2 separate regions of the Homo sapiens genome follow, and region 1 is linked to region 2. Evidence: fine-mapped expression QTL. A gene starts in region 2. The other region holds a variant in brackets. All regions are shown on one strand. Distances are from middle to middle.

Region 1 (11,447 bases), 140 kb before region 2:
AATTGACACCCTAACTTCACAATTAAAAGAACTAGAGAAGCAAGAGCAAACACATTCAAAAGCTAGCAGAAGGCAAGAAATAACTAAGATCAGAGCAGAACTGAAGGAAATAGAGACACAAAAAACCCTTCAAAAAAGCAATGAATCCAGGAGCTGGTTTCTTGAAAAGATCAACAAAATTGATAGACCACTAGCAAGACTAATAAAGAAGAAAAGAGAGAAGAATCAAATAGATGCAATAAAAAATGATAAAGTGGATGTCACCACCGATCCCACAGAAATACAAACTACCATCGGAGAATACTATAAACACCTCTATGCAAATAAACTAGAAAATCTAGAAGAAATGGATAAATTCCTTGACACATACACCCTCCCAAGACTAAATCAGGAAGAAGTTGAATCTCTGAATAGACCAATAACAGGCTCTGAAATTGAGGTAATAATTAATAGCTTACCATCCAAAAAAAGTCCAGGACCAGACGGATTCACAGCTGAATTCTACCAGAGGTACAAGGAGGAGCTGCTGCCATTCCTTCTGAAACTATTCCAATCAATAGAAAAAGAGGGAATCGGCCGGGTGCAGTGGCTCACGCCTGTAATCCCAGCACTTTGGGAGGCCGAGGTGGGTGGATCATGAGGTCAGGAGATCGAGACCATCCTGGCTAACACGGTGAAACCCTGTCTCTACTAAAAAATACAAAAAATTAGCCAGGCGTGGTGGCGGGCGCCTGTGGTCCCAAGTACTCGGGAGGCTGAGGCAGGAGAATGGTGTGAACCCAGGAGGCGGAGCTTGCAGGGAGCCGAGATTGCGCCACTGCACTCCAGCCTGGGCAACAGAGTGAGACTCCATCTCAAAAAAAAAAAAAAAAAAAAGAGAAAAAGAGAAAAAGAGGGAATCCTCCCTAACTCATTTTCTGAGGACAGCATCACCCTGATGCCAAAGCCTGGCAGAGACACAACAAAAAAAGAGAATTTTAGACTAATATCCTTGATGAACCATCAACGCAAAAATCCTCAATAAAATACTGGCAAACAGAATCCAGCAGCACATCAAAAAGCTTATCCACCATGATCAAGTGGGCTTCATCCCTGGGATGCAAGGCTGGTTCAACATATGCAAATCAATAAATGTAATCCAGCATATAAACACAACCAAAGACAAAAACCACATGATTATCTCAATACATGCAGAAAAGGCCTTTTACAAAATTCAACAGCTCCTCATGCTAAAAACTCTAAATAAATTAGGTATTGATGGCACGTATCTCAAAATAATAAGAGCTATTTATGACAAACCCACAGCCAATATCATACTGAATGGGCAAAAACTGGAAGCATTCCCTTTGAAAACTGGCACGAGACAGGGATGCCCTCTCTCACCACTCCTATTCAACATAGTGTTGGAAGTTCTGGTCAGGGCAATCAGGCAGGAGGAAGAAATAAAGGGTATTCAATTAGGAAAAGAGGAAGTCAAATTGTCCCTGTTTGCAGATGACATGATTGTATATCTAGAAAACCCCATCGTCTCAGCCCAAAATCTCCTTAAGCTGATAAGCAACTTCAGCAAAGTCTCAGGATACAAAATCAATGTCCAAAAATCACAAGCATTCTCATACACCAATAACAGACAAACAGAGAGCCAAATCATGAGTGAACTCCCATTCACAATTGCTTCAAAGAGAATAAAATACCTAGGAATCCAACTTACAAGGGATGTGAAGGACCTCTTCAAGAACTACAAACCACTGCTCAACAAAATAAAAGAGGATACAAACAAATGGAAGAATACTCCATGCTCATGGATAGGAAGAATCAATATCGTGAAAATGGCTATACTGCCCAAGATAATTTATAGATTCAATGCCATCCCCATCAAGCTACTGATGATTTTCTTCACAGAATTGGAAAAAACTACTTTAAAGTTCATATGGAACCAAAAAAGAGCCTGCATTGCCAAGTAAATCCTAAGCCAAAAGAACAAAGCTGGAGGCATCACACTACCTGACTTCAAACTATACTACAAGGCTACAGTAACCAAAACAGCATGGTACTGGTATCAAAACAGAGATATAGACCAATGGAACAGGACAGAGCCCTTAGAAATAATACCACACATCTACAACCATCTGATCTTTGACAAACCTGACAAAAATAAGAAATAGGTAAACTATTCCCTATTTAACAAATGGTGCTGGGAAAATTGGGTAGTCATATGTAGAAGGCTGAAACTGGATCCCTTCCTTATACCTTATACAAAAATTAATTCAAGATGGATTAAAGACTTAAATCTTAGACCTAAAACCATAAAAACCCTAGAAGATAACCTAGGCAATACCATTCAGGACATAGGCATGGGCAAGGACTTCATGTCTAAAACACCAAAAGCAATGGCAACAAAAGCCAAAATTGACAAATGGGATCTAATTAAACTAAAGAGCTTCTGCACAGCAGAAGAAACTACCATCAGAGTGAACAGGCAACCTACAGAATGGGAGAAAATTTTCCAATCTAGTCATCCGACAAAGGGCTAATATCCAGAATCTACAAAGAACTCAAACAAATTTACAAGAAAAAAAAAACAAACAACTCCATCAAAAATTGGGGAAGGATATGAACAGACACTTCTCAAAAGAAGACATTTATGCAGCCAACAGACACATGAAAAAATGCTCATCATCACTGGCCATCAGAGAAATGCAAATCAAAACCACAATGAGATACCATCTCCCACCAGTTAGAATGGCAATCATTAAAAAGTCAGGAAACAACAGGTGCTGGAGAGGATGTGGAGAAATAGGAACACTTTTACACTGTTGGTGGGACTGTAAACTAGTTCAACCATTGTGGAAGTCAGTGTGGCGATTCCTCAGGGATCTAGAACTAGAAATACCATTTGATCCAGCCATCCCATTACTGGGTATATACCCAAAGGACTATAAATCATGCTGCTATAAAGTCATATGCACACGTATGTTTATTGCGGCACTATTCACAATAGCAAAGACTTGGAACCAACCCAAATGTCCAACAATGATAGACTGGATTAAGAAAATGTGGCACATATACACCATGGAATACTAGGCAGCCATAAAAATGATGAGTTCATGTCCTTTGTAGGGACATGGATGAAGCTGGAAACCATCATTCTCAGCAAACTATCGCAAGGAGAAAAAACCAAACACCGCATGTTCTCACTCACAGGTGGGAATTGAACAATGAGAACACTTGGACACAGGAAGGGGAACATCACACATTGGGGCCTGTTGTGGGGTTGGGGTAGAGGGGAGGGATAGCATTAGGAGATATACCTAATGTAAATGACGGGTTAATGGGTGCAGCACACCAACGTGGTACATGTGTACATATGTAACAAACCTGCACGTTGTGCACATGTACCCTAGAACTTAGAGTATAATAAAAAATATATATATATAAAATAAATAAATGAAAAGAAAAAAAAAGAAAAAGAAGTCTCTTCCTTCCCAGGCCCTATCCTCTTAATTCCTCTTCCTGGGAAAGACTACTTTGGTACCAGATTTTTGGGTATTTTTAATAAATATTTTATATATTTATAAATATGTGAAAATGTTTTATTATTTTTCATATCAAAGTGATTTTTTAAAATATTAAGCGTGCATACTTTAAGACACTTGTTATAATTCAAATACTATATAAGTTATCATTGGAAGTCCCAATAACTTTCATAAATATCCCTTGCTGAAATGGGGGAACCTTTAGTTACCAGATAGGAAAGTACCAGCAAGGACAGCTCAGAATGTGACACCACAAGTATACCTGGAACTTTCCTTGTCTACTCTGGGACTGGGCTTCTTATTGAAATATATAGTATATTTTGGTTTAAGTTTAAAATTTTTTATTATATAGGCACATAAAGTGTCAATTCACTCTACAAGATTGTTTAAAAAAAGAAAATAGCACAACTGTCTTTCCCCTACTTACCTCTTCCCAGGAGCAACCACTTTCTTCTCTTTTAGTTGATTAGGTCTCTTAAAAAGATGTTTGCATTGCTACTTCGCTAACACCTTTAATCTTCCCTTTAGTTAACAATTTTTTGCCCGTTTTGTTTATTTTTGCTTATTTTCCCACAGACAAGTTACTTATCCACTCCCCTACTCCTTGCTAAGCTCCTCTGAAAATATTTAGAGATGTTGATTAAATTTTACTTCCCAGAACAGTTTCTCCCGACCTGCTCCATCCTGGCTTTGTCTTTGGGCTTGAGGCTGAGCTGCCATTCTGGGAATTCTCATGATAATCCAGAAGATTCTCTGCCTTCTTGCCTATGTTGTATTTTTTCTTTTCTATATCCTATGTCTCCCACTTATTGTCTTTCCACTTAATTTCCTGGGATGGAACACATTCTCTATTAACTTTCTGAGAAAGGATTCAGGAAGGCAATTTTGTTGGAGACTTTGCATTCCTCAAAAATTATGTATTCTACTCATCAACCTGATTAAAAATTTGGCTGGCTATAGAATTCTAGTTTAAAAATAATTTTCTTTCAGAATTTGAAGGCATTTACCTACTGCCTTCTAATATTTGAGTGTGCTATTAAGAAGTCTGAAGTCATTTTAATTCCTGATCATTTGCCTGGGGCCTATTTTTTGCTCTTTGAAGGAGTTTTCTTCTTTTCCCTGTTGTTTGGAAACTTCATGATGATGTGGCTCAGTATGGGTTTATGTTTATTCACTGAGTTGAGCAAACAATGGGTTCCTTAAATCTGGAAATTCTTGTCCTGTAATTTGGGAAAATATTCCCTTTAAATTTTTATTTTACATAGTATAAAATATTTATTTTATGATTTCTTATCCTCTGACATTATTTTTTCTTTTATAGTCATTTTAGTGAGATTTTAGAGGGCAAAGTTAACGCTATAGTCAAACTGTCTTCTTTATCCAGAAGTTGCAATTCTACTTTTATGAATTTTTTCTCTTTAGTAATAATTTTTTACTAAAATGTATTAGTTATAAAATTTTTGTAGTAATAATTTAGTAATAATTTTTTCTCTTTAGTAATAATTTTTGTATGAATAAATAATTCCAAAATATCTTGGCCAATGTTATACCTACTTACAGTATTGTTTATGTTATAGAGTTTCCAGTAAAGACATAAAATTTGAGGTAAAATTGTAAACGTGATACTAAAAGATGGTATCTTGACATGGCATTAACACAGTGATAGAAAGAAGACTCAGGAATACCCAAGTCTTGCCTTGTTTTAATCTTCCTTCCTGTATAAGAGGTTCCTGAAGGAGATTCGTGCCCAGGGGAGAAAAAGAAAGTAAAGGTGATATTTTGTTATTAATTAGAGATTTGGTCCCAGATCTTTAAGTTGAACTTTAATAAGAGAGGCTAGAATACAGGAAAGACACATTCTTCCTTATCTAACTAGGGTTAACTACCTAGAACCAAAGAAGGCCATGGTTTCCAACTTGATTAATTATAAGATCACACAGGAATCTTAAATTTCACTATTGATGTATGGAAAAAAAGACAAATCCAGAACACTCCCAGAATAGCACAGAAAAGGCCAAAACAGATAAATGTTGAGAGAAAAAGTTTGTCCAGGACCTACAGCATAGCTAGTTATGGGAATAGTCCCAGAAGAGGTGCATTGTGAAAGTACAACAAAGAATGAAATGGAAAGGTGAAGAAGTTGCTTCCAGTGTCCCTGGCTACCATTTGCACCATTTTGCTTTACTGGGAGGGAAGAGACAGAGAATGGAAAAGATAATTTTTAAAATATCTTGTTTTGTCAAGTAAGAGTGAATCCCTGAGAGAGAGGCAGATGCCATCACTGGCACTGTCACCTAATCATTGCCCTTCAACTTCCCAAATCCTTACTTCTGATAGAGATCCATGCTTGCAGGACTTAGGATGG[T/C]GGCTAGGAGCACAGGCCTTTGGTTTTGTCCCTAGTTGCCAATATTTTAAGCACAGTTATGATTTAGTAAGAAGCAGTTTTCAACCTAATTATTTCTCTTTTCTCTATTTCTTCCTCCAGATCTAAATATGGCTTCACCTCTCTCTGGTCAGGGGCAATTAACATTAGGTTAATTCTACTTTTATGAATTTTTTCTCTTTAGTAATAATTTTTTACTAAAATGTATTAGTTATAACATTTTTGTAGTAATAATTTAGTAATAATTTTTTCTCTTTAGTAATAATTTTTGTATGAATAAATAATTCCAAAATATCTTGGCCAATGTTATACCTACTTACAGTATTGCTTAACTGTAAGTTAACAATGACAAATGACAAATGAACTTATTGTGTATAGCAATCATGATAATATTTATATTTTAGAAATGACCTCAAATGCGAGGGAGAAAGAAACAAGGTAGAAGAAAGGAAGGAAAGAAGAGAGGAAGGAAGGAAGGAAGACAGGCATGCCAGTAAACATGTATTGGGCACTTGCTATACACCAGGCACTGTGCATCTTGGTTTCACAAATCTCTCAATTAATCCTGACAACATTAATGAAAAAATAATAGCCATATATATATATTTATATATATAAATATATAAATAAATATATATAAATATATTGTCACCCAGGTACTAAGCAAAGTACCTGACAGTTATTTTTCCTGATCCTCTCCCTCCTGCCATCCTCCTCCCTCAAGTAGGCTCCAGTGTCTGTTGTTCTCTTCTTTGTGCCCATTGGTTCTCATTATTTAGCTCCTGCTTATAAATGAGAGCATGTGATATTTGGTTTTTCTGTTCCTACACTAGTTTGCTAAGGATAATGGCCTCTAGCTTCATCCATATTCCTGCAGGGGACATGATCTTGTTCTTTTTTTATGGCTGCATAATATTTCATAATGTATATGTACTGCATTTCTTTATCCAGTCTACTGTTGATGGGCATTTAGGTTGATTCTGTGTCTTTGCTCTTGTGAATAGTGCTCCAGTGAACATACGTGTGCATGTATCTTAATGGTAGAATGATTTATATTTCTTTGGGTATGTAACCAGTAATGGGATTTCTGGGCCAAGTGATAGTTCTGTTTTTAGTTCTTTAAGGAATCACTACACTGCTTTCCAAAATGGTGGAACTAATTTACATTCCCATCAGCAGTGTATAAACGTTCCCTTTTCTCTGCAATGTCACCATCATCTGTTATTTTTTGACTTTTTAAAAATAGCCATTCTGACAGGCGTGAGATGGTATTTCATTGCAGTTTTGATTTGCATTTCTCTAGTGATATTGAGAGATTTTCATATGTTTGTTGGCTGCATGTATGTCTTCTTTTGAAAAGTCTCTGTTCATGTCCTTTGTCTACTTTTTAATGGGGTTGTTTGATTTTTGCTTGTAAATGTGTTTAAGTTCCTTACAGATTCTGGATATCAGACCTTTGTCAGACGTATAGTTTGCCAATATCTTCTCCCATTCTGTAGGTTGTCTGTTTACTCTGTTGATAGTTTCTTTTGCTCTGCAGAAGCTTTTTATAATTAGATCTCATTTGTCAATTTTTGCTTTTGCTATAATTGCTCTTGGAAAAATAATAGCCATTTTTATGAGTGAGGCAATTTACCATCTGGTGAGGATCAAGGGATTTGCTTAAGGCCTCATGGTGAATCTTGATACCAAAAGGGGAAACTGAAGCAGGTGTTCTTATATGTGAACAAGATCAAAATAGTAAAGGCTATTATTGGAAATTTTGCTTTACTAGAGATTGTGTCTGCCATGACTCTGTAATAGAACCCTCCAAGTCACAGACCTGTCTCCAGGCACTCAGAATCTTGGGTCTAGAGCAAAACAACTCATTCCATTCATAGGTGGAATGAAGGCTCCTAGTCACAGGTCAGGATTAGACCAGGAATGGGTGGGTCTGAACCAACTCAATTTAAAAGTCTCAAAGATGACTGCTAAGTGAAACTAGAGAGTCAAGTCTAGTAAGTGAAATTTTTTCAGTTGAAGAATTTAAAGATGGTGTATTTCCAAGGAATGAAAAGATACAGGCTATGGTCATGTTACTAGATTTCTAAACTGAAGAGGGCAAAATGAAAAATAAAATCAATGGATTGTGAGCTTAGGGTTCTTCTGGTTATATCATTCATTTCCCCAACTCAGTTGAGTTCAACACACATTTAGTGAGTCCCTGCCATGCAATAGAATTGTGTCCTGTCCTAAATAGCCATTTCTGGCTATTATTATTACATCTGAAGATACAAAGGTAAAGTAGCGTTCCTGCCCTTTATGGGTTTGGCCTAGTCTATTGGTTTCCAAGCCTGCCTGTGGGGCAGAATTATCTAGAGAGCATCTTTTAAATCTCCATCCCAAAAGATTCTTTCAGAATGTTTGGGGTGAATCAAGGGATTTTGAATTTTTAACAACTTTCATGGGTGAGCCTTATGTACCTTGTGCATTTCTAGCCCATAGCAAGAATTTGGGCATAAGTGATCTCATTCAGTTGAACACTGACATAATATAGGATGATGGAGAAGAAGACTGACTTCTTCAAACATGTAATTCTTGAATATATAGAGAGAGTGAGCAGTAGGTTAGAAGGGGGCTTGGAACAAAAATGGGTAGGGGGATCATTGGTTGATCTCACAATGAGGGTGAAGGTGAAGGAGTGTGGAAAGCAATGGTCTGGAAGTCACAGTGAGATTCCAGTAGGACAGACACCCCCAACACAGAGGGAGTATGGAAACTGAAGCCATAGCCATTGAAAAGGCTGTAAGGAAAGCACCATCGTTGGAGATGCCAGCTTCCTGGTGAGGCATGGAAGTTGTGGGGGGAAGTAGCAATGTGGGGAATAACTTTGGAAAAGCAGTCAAGAAGGGCAGCAAGAGGAAAGTGTGAGGAGTGCAAATTAACAGGCACAAGATAGGCCAGAGAAGGTGATAGCCTGATTAGCCAGGAAATGAGTTTGGGAGAGAATGGGTGTACACTTTGTGTCATGACTGTGGAGGACTGAGCTAAGGGAGGACAGGGTCTACAGGTAGACAACATAATTTGCCTGTACTCTGTGTACTGCCACCCTTCCTCATTAAGCACATAGTTTACAGGCCACCTTATTTTTTATGAATCCCTAAGAAGTGAAATGCTTTTCCCAGATGTCCCAGCAAATTTATTCCAAGATACTGAAGAAACAAGACAATTCTCCTTTATAGAACCAAGCCTATGTCCTCCTCGAGTCCTTTTATTATTATTTTTTGAGATGGAGCCTTATTCTGTCACCCAGGCTGCATGAACTCGGCTCACTCAACCTCCACCTCTCAGGTTCAAGTGATTCTCCTGCCTCAGCCTCCTGAGTAGCTGGGATTATGGGCATGCGCCACCAGGCCCAGCTAATTTTTGTATGTTTAGTAGAGACAGGGTTTCAACATGTTGGCCAGGCTGGTCTTGAACTCCTGGCCTCGAGTCATCTGCCCATTTAGGCCTCCCAAAATGCTGGGATTGCAGGTGTGAGCCACCATGACCTGCCTCTCTCTCCAGGCTTCTAAGGGGTTTGATAACTTGACATTAAGAGAAATAATAAAGCTGTCTAACGCCTTGATATGCTGTGCTTTTCTTGGTAAAAATTAAAGGGAGGCTGGAAAACCTTTACTAAAAGAAGACAACTTTGCCTAAGGTTTTTTGGCTGGCAACAACCCCAGGACTTACATAGAAAGGACAGACTGTCAGCAGGCTCATGGAGAATTCATTGTAATTAGTTCTTAAGCAGCCTGATCCCTTGGTAAATTCTGGAGTGAACTCAGTTCAGGAGAAACTGCAACAGCAAATTAGGAGTTAATTGAATGTCATTCATTTCCTCTTTCTCAGCTGCTCCAGGGCTATTTATGCAAACTTTTCCTGGGGGAGCCTACCTCTATTCTCTGTAAAGTGTTAATGACAACTTTCTTTGAAGAGCTCTTGCTATTTGCTTGTTCATTCCATGCTTTATTATTCTTTCCATAGGGTGATTAGCAGATAAGTGGCATTTCTGTTCCCTCCCCAGGCAGTAGCAATAAAATCTCCTATCCCACATTAACATCATGATTTATCATTGATATTCATATCACAGACATGAATTGGGAGTCAGAGACACGAGCTTGTATTTGAGGTCTGCCACTTCTAGCTATGTTACTAGATTAAGTTACATAACCACTCTGAGCTTTATATTTGTTCAGTGGTTATATGGAAGCATAATCGGACCTACTGTTTGGTTGTTGTGTGGATTGAGTGACATGATGCATGCAAAATGCTTAGCAAAATGCATTAGTCTCATTAGTGTCCTAAAAGTGGTAGCATACTTTAGCTTTACAATCATTATCTTACATAACTATTATTTAATTATTATCTAAATCAGCCTTATAATAATCTCATGAGGTAGTCAGGATAGTTCTCATTCTGGCATCATTCGTAGCAAAGGCAGGGGATCTATAGGAAAAAGAAAGCACATGAATAGATAAATGTATAACATCTTATTTCCTACCTTATTTCAATCAGAGGAGGTGTAGAACTAAGGAACCCAAGTAAGGTCTCCGACAACTGTTTCACCCTGCCAAATCTCTGTATGCCTAAACCCTGACATTCTTCTTCTGTCCCCTAAGCCAGGACCCACCTACACCCTCTACCACTGGCTTGGAAATTTAGTCTCCTGCCTACTTTTTGCCAGGATCGTTTTTTGGAAATAGATTCTACTCTGTACTAGCAGCACACAGGGTCCCCATTCTAGCTGTTGCTGGATTAGGAATATTAGTGTTACACACCTGGTTATTGCATGTAGAAGTTTAAGACTGGATGCATAATTTGTGGGGCCCAGTGCCCAAGGAAAACATGGGACTCCTTCTTCAAAAAGTATTAAACATTTCAAGACAGGGACAGCAGAGCATTAAACCATGCACGAGGCCCTTCTGACTGCAGGGCCCTCTGTGACTGCCCAGGTTGCTCACCCAGGAAGCTGATCTTCAATTTAGCTGAAGATCTGCAATTTCACTTGTAAAGTGTTCCTTTGAAATTGCTTACTTCATTCATTAATCAATTTATTCTTTTAACAAATATGTTTCTGAGCTGCTGCTATATATATGTCACACATCAGTCTAAGTCTGAAGATATACCATTAAAAAAATAAGCAAGGTTCCAACTTTCGTGATATTTACTATTATAGGTCACAAGTTGGAAAACTATAACTCATGGGCCAAATCTGGCTTGCCACCTGTTTTTGTACCTCCCACAAACTAGGATTTTTTTTTTTTCATTTTTAAGTACTTAAAGGAATTTTTAAGCTAGGCTTGATGGCTCATGCCTGTAATCCCAGCAGTTTTGGAGGCTGAGACAGGCAGGTTACTTGAGGTCAGGAATTCAAAATCAGCCTGGCCAACATAGCAAAACCCCATCTCTGGTAAAATACAAAAATTAGCTGGATGTGGTGCTGTGCACCTGTAATCCTAGCTATTCGGGAGGCTGAGGCAGGAGAATCACTTGAACCCAGGAGG
Region 2 (11,447 bases):
ACAGTATTTGCTAATTCAGTGAATCTGGCAACTTCATAGAACACAAGTGCCACAGACAACAATAATTTAATGTACAGTTGTCCCTTGATATCCACAGGGGATTCGTTTCAGGACCCCTGAGGATACCAAAATCTGGGGATGCTCAAGTCCCTTATCTAAAATGGCGCAGTGTTTACTATAACCTATGCACATCCTCCCATACGATTTAAATCATCTCTGGATTACTTATAACACCTAGCACAATATAAATACCATGTAAATAGTTGTTATACTGTGCTGTTTTAATTATTATTTAATTAAATTAATTAATTATTTTATTTATTTTTGAGATGGAGTCTTGCTCTGTCACCCAGGCTGTAGTGCAGTGGAGCAATCTTGCTCACTGCAGCCTCTGCTTCCTGGTTCAAGAGATTCTCGTGCCTCGCCCTCCTGAGTAGCAGGGGCTACAGGAGTGCACCACCATGCCTAATTTTTGTGTTTTTAGTAGAGACAGGGTTTCACCATGTTGGCCAGGCTGGTCTCAAACTTCTGACCTCAAGTGATCCGCCTGCCTTGGCCTCCCAAATTGTTGGGATTACAGGTGTGAGCCACTGAACTTGGCCAGTTTTTATTATTTTTATAGTTGTATTATATTTTTCATGTTTCCAAATATCTTTCATCTGCTGTTGGTTGAATCTATAGATGTGGAACCTGTGGATATAAAGGGCTAACTGCAGTTCTCTTTTCACTCACCTATCAACTCCTTGAGATAGTGGTTTTCACTCAGCATTTTCATGTAATCACAATTCCTCCCTCCAAATATCTTATCATCTGACTCACATTTCCACCATATGACATTCTCAGAGAACCAGAGACGGGTTTGGCCAGACATCAGAACTAATGAGAAGGAGGGACTCCCTCAGGACTTTCTGTGTGTTTGTGTCTTTCTTCCTTCTTTTCCTTTATAGTTTAACTTTCTCTAGATATTTAGTCTACATGGCAGAGAGTATGGCTGCCAATAGCCATTGATTTTCACATCCTACCATCCAAATAACCAAGGAGACTGTCTGAATCTCTCCTCAGGCCCATACATCCTGAGAAAGCTTGAGTCAGGTGCCCCTGGCTGTGACTAGAACGTGTGTGTGGTACTGTGAAGTGTGTAGTATTCTGGCTACAACTCTGGGTGATAATTAAATCTACAACTGCATAGCCTAATACAGTAGCCACTTGTCACATGTGGCAATTTATATTTAAATATTAAGTAAAATTAAATAAAATTTAAAAATCTTCAGCCACACTGGTCATGCTTCCAGTGCTCAGCAGCCAAGTGTGGCTATTAGCTGCTCTCTTAGAACAGATATAGAACATCTCCATCATCGCAAGAAGTTCTATTGGACAATACTGCTATAGATGAAGAGGAATCTCTCAGAAAAGAGATTAGGGTTAGAAAGGAGTATTTCTTACCATTTGACCCAGCCATCCCATTACTGGGTATATACCCAAAAGATTATAAATCATGCTGCTATAAAGACACATCCACATGTATGTCTATTGCGGCACTATTCACAATAGCAAAGACTTGGAACCAACCTGAATGTCCAACAATGATGGACTGGATTAAGAAAATGTGGCACATATACACCATGGAATACTATGCAGCCATAAAAAATGATGAGTTCATGTCCTTTGTAGGGACATGGATGAAGCTGGAAACCATCATTCTCAGCAAACTATCGCAAGGACAAAACATCAAACACCGCATGTTCTCACTCATAGGTGGGAATTGAACAGTGAGAACACATGGACACAGGAAGGGGAACATCACACACTGGGGCCTGTTGTGGGGTGGGGGAAGGGGGGAGGGATAGCATTAGGAGATATACCTAATGTTAATGATGAGTTAATGGGTGCAGCACACCAACATGGCACATGTATACGTATGTAACAAACCTGCACGTTGTGCACATGTACCCTAAAACTTAAAGTATAATAAAAATAAAAATAAAAGAAAGGAGTATTTCTGAGCAGATAAATCTGTAGGTGTTTCTCATACCTTCTCTGCCATAGTCGATAAAACTGACCCAGACTCTTTGCAACAATTTCTTCCTCTGGCACTTAGAACATTTTTATATTCTCACAATTGCCCTGTGATTCTTCCCCTTTCAGTTTTCACCCTCCCCTAAGTATCTGGACTGTTCCTGTGTTTTGTAATACCACTGTATATTGCTGACTTCTAAATTTACATCTGTCTCAGACCCTTCTTCTTAGCTCCAGACCCACAGACCTAACTGCCTACTTAATATCTCCAATTGGATATATCAAATGTCACTTGGAATTAATACCTCACACTGAATTCTTAATCTATCCTAAATCTCCTTCTCTTTGCATGTCCCCCATCTCAATAAATGGCACCTCTATCTGCACAGTTTGTTATGCCAGAAGCCTTGGAAAAATCCTTGCTATCTTCTATCTTCTTTTGCCTCAGTCTAATATATCCCCAACTCTGATAAATTAAAGATTCAAACTATTTCTTTAATATAGCTAGATTTTTTTTCATTTTTATTGCTACCATTTAATGTCACACTCTCCTTTCACTTTGCTTCTAACATTTATTCAACTTTCTGTTCCTGCTCTAATGTCATCTTCTCACAGAACCCTTCCTTGTCCTCTGATCTGGATTCCACCTTTTACTGTCATCACACATTATGCTTTTGCTTTTCACAAATGTATTGGGTTACATATGTAATTATTTGTTTAGTGTCTAGTCTTCTCTAGCCTCATGTAATGTCTTCTCTAGCTTGATAAAGGCAGGAAATACGTTTGTTTTATTTTCCTGTGAATCTGCTGTATTTAGCACAGGGCTGGACCTTTAGCCCTCAGTCAGTACTTAATACCTTTTCAGAACACATTTTTATGAGCTTTAGAAACTAGTCTTCTTCCCTCTTAATGGTTATGGAGGTCTTTCAGGTTCTGTGTATCTTCTTATGGTTTCAGCTTTGACCCTGAGAATGACTCCCTTTCAATGTTACAAGACCTGGCTCCTCTTCTTGGAGACATGCTTGCAAAATTCACCCCTCCTTCCTGCCTCCCTGGTTTTCCCACAAGAATTCTCTTGAACTCACATGACTTCTTCCTACAGGAGATCTCCAAGCCTGCACCTCCAGCCCATCCAACCACAAAGAACTTTGAAACCTCTTAACCTGTCTTGTCATCTTAGTTCATGCAAATAGCAACCCCTAGAGATTTGTAGTGCACAGCCTGAACAACCACAGGGGCAAACTTCCCTTCCTGTCTCTGAAGTCTCGCTTTATCCTTATTGTCTCACCCCTAGAACTTCAAGGAGCCTCATAACTCATAGCCCAATCCCTACTCTTTCTGTAGACCCATTTTCGAAAATGCAGAATTGCAGAATTGTTCTGCCGGAAGACACCTCCAGAACATCTTACATATCTGAGTGTGTAAATGAGGAAACATAGGTTTAGAAAGTGGCAGGCTAGTCACTACAACCAAGACCTTCTAACTTTCTGTCTGGTGCTCTATGACACATACAGCCCCCACTGTGCTCAGAGGTCCTCATGGAGCTTCCTTTACTAAATGTAAAAGACTAAATTCATTTGCCTACAGTTTCCTTTTCTTTCCTTTCGATCACTTTATATTTTCTGAACTGCCCACACTTACCTTATGCATTTTTGCTGGGAGACCTTTGTTCTTCCTGTTGATCTTACCTAGAATATCTTTCTCTAGTTTTATCCTCTGTTGTGAATCTTGTGTTTCAAGCCTCAAAGCATGTCTGATACATAGCGGGCTTTAATGTATTTGCTGTTGAATGAATGAATGAAACATGTAATTTAGTCAATTTTCCCCATATTGACTGTGGCTAAATTTCTATTGACAGAAGTCAACAAATATCTACCACCATATCCTGAAGTTTGCACCAAAGTGGACAGTACTGAAAAATATGCACCTGATGTGTTTGACTCTCAAAAAGCAGTGATTTCTTAAAGCAGTTGGGAATTTTACCCTATTAATTGCTCACTTGGGTAACCATGCAGTTGATCTCCTCGACTGATCTATCTCCTGTCTTTCCCAAAGCAGATATTGATCCTGATTTTCTCTGATTTGAAGACTGACAAGTAGAGGCAGGTGAGAAAGGAAGCCTGTGGGAGACACAGGGAGAAAGGAAAGTCTAGAAAGACACTAGAAGGCCTGAAGAGGAGAAATTTATACTATGACCTCAACCAGAAACAGGTTAGAGACCTTAGTTCTTAAAAGGGAACTTGTATTGTAGGTATTATTTAAAATGTAAATTGAATCCAAGAATGATTTTAACATTTGGTTTCTGGTCACTAAACCTGGCAATAAGTATAAACAGTTTAAAATAATCACAAAGTCAAATGATTTTGCTAGAAAATGAAGATTTCTTGGTCCACAGCTTGTTGCACTGAGTATATTAACCTATGTTAAGAAGTTAGCTCCACTCTCTTTTAATGTAGTCTGCTAAATAATTTTTAGACATCTCTATAGAAATGAAATTTATTCAAAAAAAGGACACAAATTAGTTTGCAAAATTCAGAAATATAACTGGAAAAGCAAGCATAAAGTCTTACATTAAGTGGTTAGTTGCTTATCCCTTGTTGATGCCTATTTTATTTGAGAGATATCCCAGTTGTGCTATGCTAAGTTTTGAAGGTCTGTGTAGTCTTTAACTTGATCTTTAAAAACAACAGAATTTGAGTGAATGTCAATAAAACCAGTGAATTATAAATATTCTGTCTTCTAGCATGTTTGACTAGGGCTGCCAATAAACAAAATTATATTTCCTAGGACTTCAGGCATGAATACTAATCTATTGAATTTTAATTTAATATTCTATGAGGAACCTAGGAGAGTATCAACAATTTAGACATCTGTTGAGTTATTCTCAGAATAAAACTGGACATGTGAACATTTCAGGAAATGAAATAAAATTCTTAATGTCTTTGTATTAAAATGCAACATATATACATACATATATACACATATATTCACATATATATACATATATATATTACTATTATGACTTTTTACCTAAAAACCCCAGTTACTTGAATTAGCTATTAGGCACAGAATTATTCGACCCTGTCCCCATCCCTCTCCCATGCTCACACACTAGCTAGTATTTCTGATGGTAAAATTAATTCTTGCCACAGAATACAGGTCTTTACTCCCATTCCCCAAATGACCTAAAACCACTAAAATGGCAGAGTTTCATTCAACACTGCAGCTGCTATTTTGTCTCCAGCAGGATGATATAAAGATTAGGCTATAATCAAAAGCAAAAATTCTTGCATGTGCATTGCAGCTAGAAGAGCTCTCTTTATGCTATGTGCCTCTTCACAAATTACAAAGCAAATGATATAGGAGTGTAGCTCCTAAACTGGTCTGTCTGAACTGATAACACTGAATCACTAGTTGGCTGGGGTGTCCACCCAGATGGGAAAAGGAGGTGGATAAAAGGGAAATGAGGTTGTAATGTTGTTGACTTCAGGCCTCAAGGAAGAGACAGCTGTGGATTTTCTTAGGTGAGGAACAATGTCAGAGGAGAACATAATTCATTATAAGACTCATGGGGAAACAGTCAAATGAAGAAGCAACAAAGCAGCAACAAAACCAAACCCAAGTCTTGCCCCACTGTGCAGCTGCAGGACAAAGACAGAACAGAAGCCTGTAATTGGGGAACAAAGTGTTGTTCTTTCGGGCATTATAAAATGAAGCCTTCAGAAATCACTCAATCTTGTCATTCCAAACAGTTTGATGCATTTGTGAAAAAAAGTTTTCCTTTTTTTTTTTTTTGAAAGGAGTCTTGTTCTGCAGCCCAGGCTGGAGTGCAGTGGCGTGATCTCGGCTTACTGCAACCTCTGCCTCCCGGTTCAAGTGATTCTCCTGCCTCAATCTCCTGAGTAGCTGGGACTAAAGGCGCCCACCACCACACCTGGCTCATTTTTGTATTTTTAGTAGAGACAGGGTTTCGCCATGTTGACCAGGATGGTCTCGATCTCCGTGTGATCCACCCCCTCGGCCTCCCCAAGTGCTAGGATTACAGGCTTGAGCCCCCGCGTCCAGCTGGAAGTTTTCTTTTCTTTTTTTTTTTCTTTTTTAGCAGTGTACACCTTTTAAAACTGCAATTGAGTACTAAATAATGGAGTAGTTTTGTTCAAAAGCAATATTTATTTTTCATGAAGATAAGAGGCATATTACATTCGCTATAGAAAATGCTATGAGAGGAAAAAGCTGCATGTTACCGATATGACAAAAAACATAAAAAACTCTACTTATGAAAGTGTTTTGCCCTATAAGAACATATTCAATAAAAGGCATTATTCCAGGTGAATGAGCCATGCGGAAATGTGGATTTATTAGGGTTTGTTTTGAAATGTAATTTGTACGGCCAGCTTTTTATTCCTTTGATGGCTATCAAATAGATTTATTGGCTACATGTTAGAAGTGCAAAAGATAACAGGTAACCAAGGGAGAAGTTTTAATAAAACTCTCAGGAAAGGCAAAGAAAAGTGAGTGAATATGCCTGCTTACATTTCAGCTAATAAATAAAAAGTGCAGATAGGGCTTTAACTGAAAACCTTGCTGGTTATTGCAGCCTGGAAGGTTTATTGAAAACTGGGTAGAACACTCTCATTTTTTATATTTACAGCTACATTGTGAGCTGTTCAGGTTAGAGTGATGTAACGTTCATTTTGACTTTGGTACAGGAAACTGATGTTTTCACAGGAAACTTGCAAAGCAGTTATGAAGAGGAAGAGCGTTCTTAATTATTAGTGTCTGCCTGAGCTATTTCTGATTGTGTTCTGGGATTTTAGAGAATTGAACAATAGAGTATTTAATTTTACCACTCCCCTCTTGAGTAAAAACATCAGACACTTTTAGGAAAGTTTTAGAAGGTACATCTTCAATAAGCAGAGATCTTTCATCTCAAATAACTGGGAAGAATTGCACTGCTTAAGAATAGTTGAACTTGGACCTGAGAGCACCATACTTAGAAATCTAAGTATATTTAGGTCACTCATCTAACACTGGGACTTTACCAGCCCTGTCACCCAAACTGGTTGTAGTTAGTAGGACCACAAAGTCACTGAAGAAATCTGCTTTCCTTTTAACTTTCAAGGCAATAAGAAAAATGTAGTTCTCTGTTAGCAGTCCCTGAGCTATCTGAATTTCGGTGTTTCTCTCTTAAGCCTCTTGCTTTGGAGGATGATGAATCATTTCCTACTCCTGGAGTTAGTCTCCTTTAAAACAGACACAAAGGAGGCAGAGAGAAAAAATTACTCTAAATACCATTAACCAATGTAAAACAGTTTTCTATTAAACAGTAGGACAGCAGGGCCAAACTTGTGTTACCACAATTGACAACTGGCTTCTTAAAGCAAGCTCCATAGATTAAGAACCATAGCCTCTAGGACTGATTTTACTTGGTTCAGAAACAGGAAATCAGAACAGTGAGCAAGTATACGATTAGAAATTTACATTAATAAAATGTGATTTTTTTGATACACAAAAGCTTTTAGGTTGTAAATAATCTATGATGGCCTGCCAAATATAAAATGCCATTATAAATCCATGTCTATATTTCAAAAAGACGGGAACACAAAAGCAAGATACATTAAATTAATTGGTGTAGTTTGGAGAGTTCGAATCCATTATTAGATATGGATCCTATCAAATATCCCACCTAATTTCCAGTTACGTCGATGTTTCAATGTTCACTTTTTAAGTTCTCAACTACCCACATCTTTCACTGAACACCATCTGGAAAGGTTCATACAGAATGCCCATGCCATTCTTGAAAGGATTTGCTTTTGTGGAGGGGTTTTGCAAAGAAAAACAATTCAAAATTCTGTTACAGCTTATACATTGTCTTTTGTAGGACTATAATAAAAAACCTTCTAAGTAAGTTTTTGAGATAGGTGTTAAATGAATAAGCATGCCTCAGCAAAATGCATAAAAAACACAATGATTTAATTTCTAAAGCACTTATATTATTATGGCATGGTTTTGGAGACAGGTTATTATAGTCCACATAGGTAAGTATGCAGTGCTTCTCATGGAAAAAATGCTTAGGTATTGGCCTTTTCTCTGGAAACCATATTTTTCCTTTTTTAATAATCAACTAAGATGTATATGTAAGAAAGCCTCATCTTTTGATTTTTAATATACAAGATGCTTTCTTTAAGAGAGCAAGATTCAAAATTGTTTTGTGTTTCAAAATTTAAAAATAAATTTATCTCCTAAATTTTCTAAAGACATGTTTCATATATTTGACCATCCCTTATTTTGGCAAAGGATTTTAAGAGTCTAACTCAAACATATGTAAGCTCTGGTGTACCTGGTTATATATACCAAAAAAAACATTTGATCTATATACACATAGACATGAATATATTTCTGTGTGTGTTTGTGCATATATAACCTCAAACACTATTATTAAATGCAATCCTATATTCTTAGGTATAGAAGTTGATGATATACCTTTCTACTTGCCATGGCATTAACAAAGCAAGGCTGAGACTCAGCAACCACTTGTGTTCATTGCATTGCAGGCTAGTAGTAAGTTTGGTTGCTGGTAGGAAAAGGGTCTCTTATCTCACCCTCCTTAAACTAAAGGTTCTTTCAGGCTTAATGTAAGGATGTGCACATTCTCTTATCGAGGTGGTCTTGAGCTGCAGATACAATCACATCGTTCATGGTGATCCAACTGGATGTCAACTAGAGCCATGGTCTTAGCTCTACCCCTCCTCTTGATGTGGCCAGGCTCAAACTGTAATACCTAGGACAAGAAGCACATCTCCTGTTAGAAAGCCTTTGGAGTTCAACTCAGTCAGATGCCACCTACTTATTACCTTTTTGACAACTAGTTCTTAGCCCTTTGAGAACCCAACAGAAGCTATGGGCTTGCTATTAGAATGCACACGTTGCTATTAGAATGTACACATTTTTCAAATAATTGACTCCCTGAAGTGGAGGAATCAATTGATCCCAGAGTAATGCCCAGCATAACTTACCTGAAGTACCCAGATGATTTCATGTGTCTTAGCAGGTATTTATTAATAGCTTTCTAAGGGCCTGCTTTGGGCCAAGTACTGTTCCAAATATTATCGTAAAGATCCTTCTGACCAAGGCATGTGTTATAGATGAATACAATACTTGAGCATATTATTAGCATGGAGAGGAAAATGAATACAACCATGAATAAAATATGCTGGTATATCTAAATCTTTGGTTGAAGTAAAACATGTTGCCCTGGAGTTGCTGGCAAGATGGCCGAACAGGAACAGCTCTGGTCTGCAGTTCCCAGCGAGATCAATGCAGAAGGCGGGTGATTTCTCCATTCCCAACTGAGGTACCCAGTTCATCTCACTGGGACTGGTTAGACATTGGGTGCAGCCCACGGAAGGTGAGCTGAAGCAGGGTGGGGTGTCCCCTCAGCCGCGAAGTGCAAGGGGGTGGGGGATCTCCTTCCCCCAGCCAAGGGAAGCCATGAGAGACTGTACCAGGAGGAATGGTGCACTCTAGTCCAGATACTGCACTTTTCCCATAGTCTTTGCAACTGGCAGACCAGGAGATTTCCCCCAGTGCCTATGCCACCAGGGCCCTGGGTTTCAAGCACAAAACTGGGCGGCCATTTGGACAGACACCGAGCTAGCCGCAGCAGTTTATTTTTCATACCCCAGTGGCGCCTGGAATGCCAGCAAGACAGAACCATTCACTCCAGGGATCCAAGTGGTCTGGCTCAGTGGGTCCCACCCCCATGGAGCCCAGCTAGCTAAGATCCACTGGCTTGAAATTCTCCTGCCAGCACAGCAGTCTGAGATTGACCTGGGATGCTTGAGCTTGGTGAGGGGAGGGGCGTCTGCCATTGCTGAGGCTTGAGTAGGCGAGGCGGTTTTACCCTCAAAGTGTAAACAAAGCTACTGGGAAGTTTGAATGGGGCGGAGCCCACCGCAGCTCAGCAAGGCCGCTGTGGCCAAACTGCCTCTCTAGATTCCTCCTTTTTGGGCAGGTCATCTCTGAAAGAAAGGCAGCAGCCCCAGTCAGGGACTTATAGATAAAACCCCCATCTCCCTGGGACAGAGAACCTGGGGGAAGGGGTGGCTGTGGGTGCAGCTTCTCAGACTTAAACATTCCTGCCTGGAGGCTCTGAAGAGAGCAGCGGATCTCCCAGCACAGCATTTGAGCTCTGATAAGGGACAGGCTGCCTCCTCAAGTGGGTCCCTGACCCCCATGTATCCTGACTGGGAGACATCTCCCATTAGGGGCCAATAGACATTTCATACAGGAGACAGGGTCTGGAGTGGACCTCCAGCAAACTCCAGCAGACCTGCAGCAGAGCGGCCTGACTGTTAGAAGGAAAAGTAACAAACAGAAAGGAATAGTATCAACATTAACAAAAAGGACATCCACTCAGAGACCCCATCTGAAGGTCAACAACATCAAAGACCAAAGGTAAATAAAACCAAAAAGATGGGGAAAAACCAGTGCAGAAACACTGAAAATTCCAAAAACCAGAACTCCTCTTCTCAACCAAAGGATCACAACTCCTCGCCAGCAAGGGAACAAAACCAGATGGAGAATGAGTTTGAGGAATTGACAGAAGTAGGCTTCAGAAGGTGGGTAATAACAAACTCCTCCGAGCTAAAGGAGCATGTTCTAACCCAATGCAAGGAAGCTAAGAACCTTGAAAAAAGGTTAGATGAATTGCTAACTAGAATAATCAGTGTAGAGAAGAACATAAATGACCTGATGGAGCTGAAAAACGCAAGACAAGAACTTCATGAAGCATACACAAGCTTCAATAGCCAAATCGATCAAGCAGAAGAAAGGATATCAGTGATTGAAGATCAAATTAATAAAAGAAAGTGAGAAGACAAGATTACAGAAAAAAGAGTGAAAAGAAACAAACAAAGCCTCCAAGAATTATGGGACTATGTGAAAAGACCAAATCTACATTTGATTGGTGTCCCCCAAAGTGATGGGGAGAATGGAATCAAGTTGGAAAACACTCTTCAGGGTATTATCCAGGAGAATTTCCCCATCTATCAGGGCAGGCCAACATTCAAATTCAGGAAATATGGAGAACACCATAAAGATACTCCTCGAGAAGAACAATCCCAAGACACATAATCTTCAGATTCACCAAGGTTGAAATGAAGGAAAAAATGTTAAGGGCAGCCAGAGAGAAAGGTTGGGTTACCCACAAAGGGAAGCCAATCAGACTAACAGCGGATCTCCCGGCAGAAACCCTACAAGCCAGAAGAGAGTGAGGGCCAATATTCCACATTCTTAAAGAAAATAATTTTCAACCCAGAATTTCATATCCAGCCAAACCAAGCTTCCTAAGTGAAGGAGAAATAAAATCCTCTACAGAGAAGCAAATGCTGACAGATTTTTGTCACCACCAGGCCTGCCTTACAAGAGCT

Which allele goes with the higher level. Positions count from the first base shown, and alleles are read on the strand shown. Sizes are in standard deviations (SD) of each study's normalised expression.
For the expression in ovary of the gene that starts at base 5,848 in region 2, C is the low allele of the variant in region 1 and T is the other (large effect, 1.0 SD a copy in GTEx).

What was found.
Region 1: its variant is fine-mapped to the expression of PDGFDDN in ovary (GTEx, PIP 0.92).

What each region holds. Positions count from the first base shown.
Region 1 is chr11:103,759,160-103,770,606 of GRCh38, forward strand. No RefSeq gene overlaps it. Among named protein-coding and RNA genes, the nearest start is that of MIR4693, 85 kb to the right of the region's middle. The variant T/C (reference allele first, on the strand shown) is at 5,902.
Region 2 is chr11:103,901,023-103,912,469 of GRCh38, forward strand. PDGFDDN (PDGFD downstream neighbor) reads right to left here and starts at 5,848. Exons shown (of 4, transcript XR_947960.3): 1 at 3,658-5,848. PDGFD (platelet derived growth factor D) reads right to left here. Exons shown (of 7, transcript NM_025208.5): 7 at 6,167-8,797. The coding sequence ends at 8,672. RefSeq lists enhancers at 3,029-3,118, 3,539-3,708.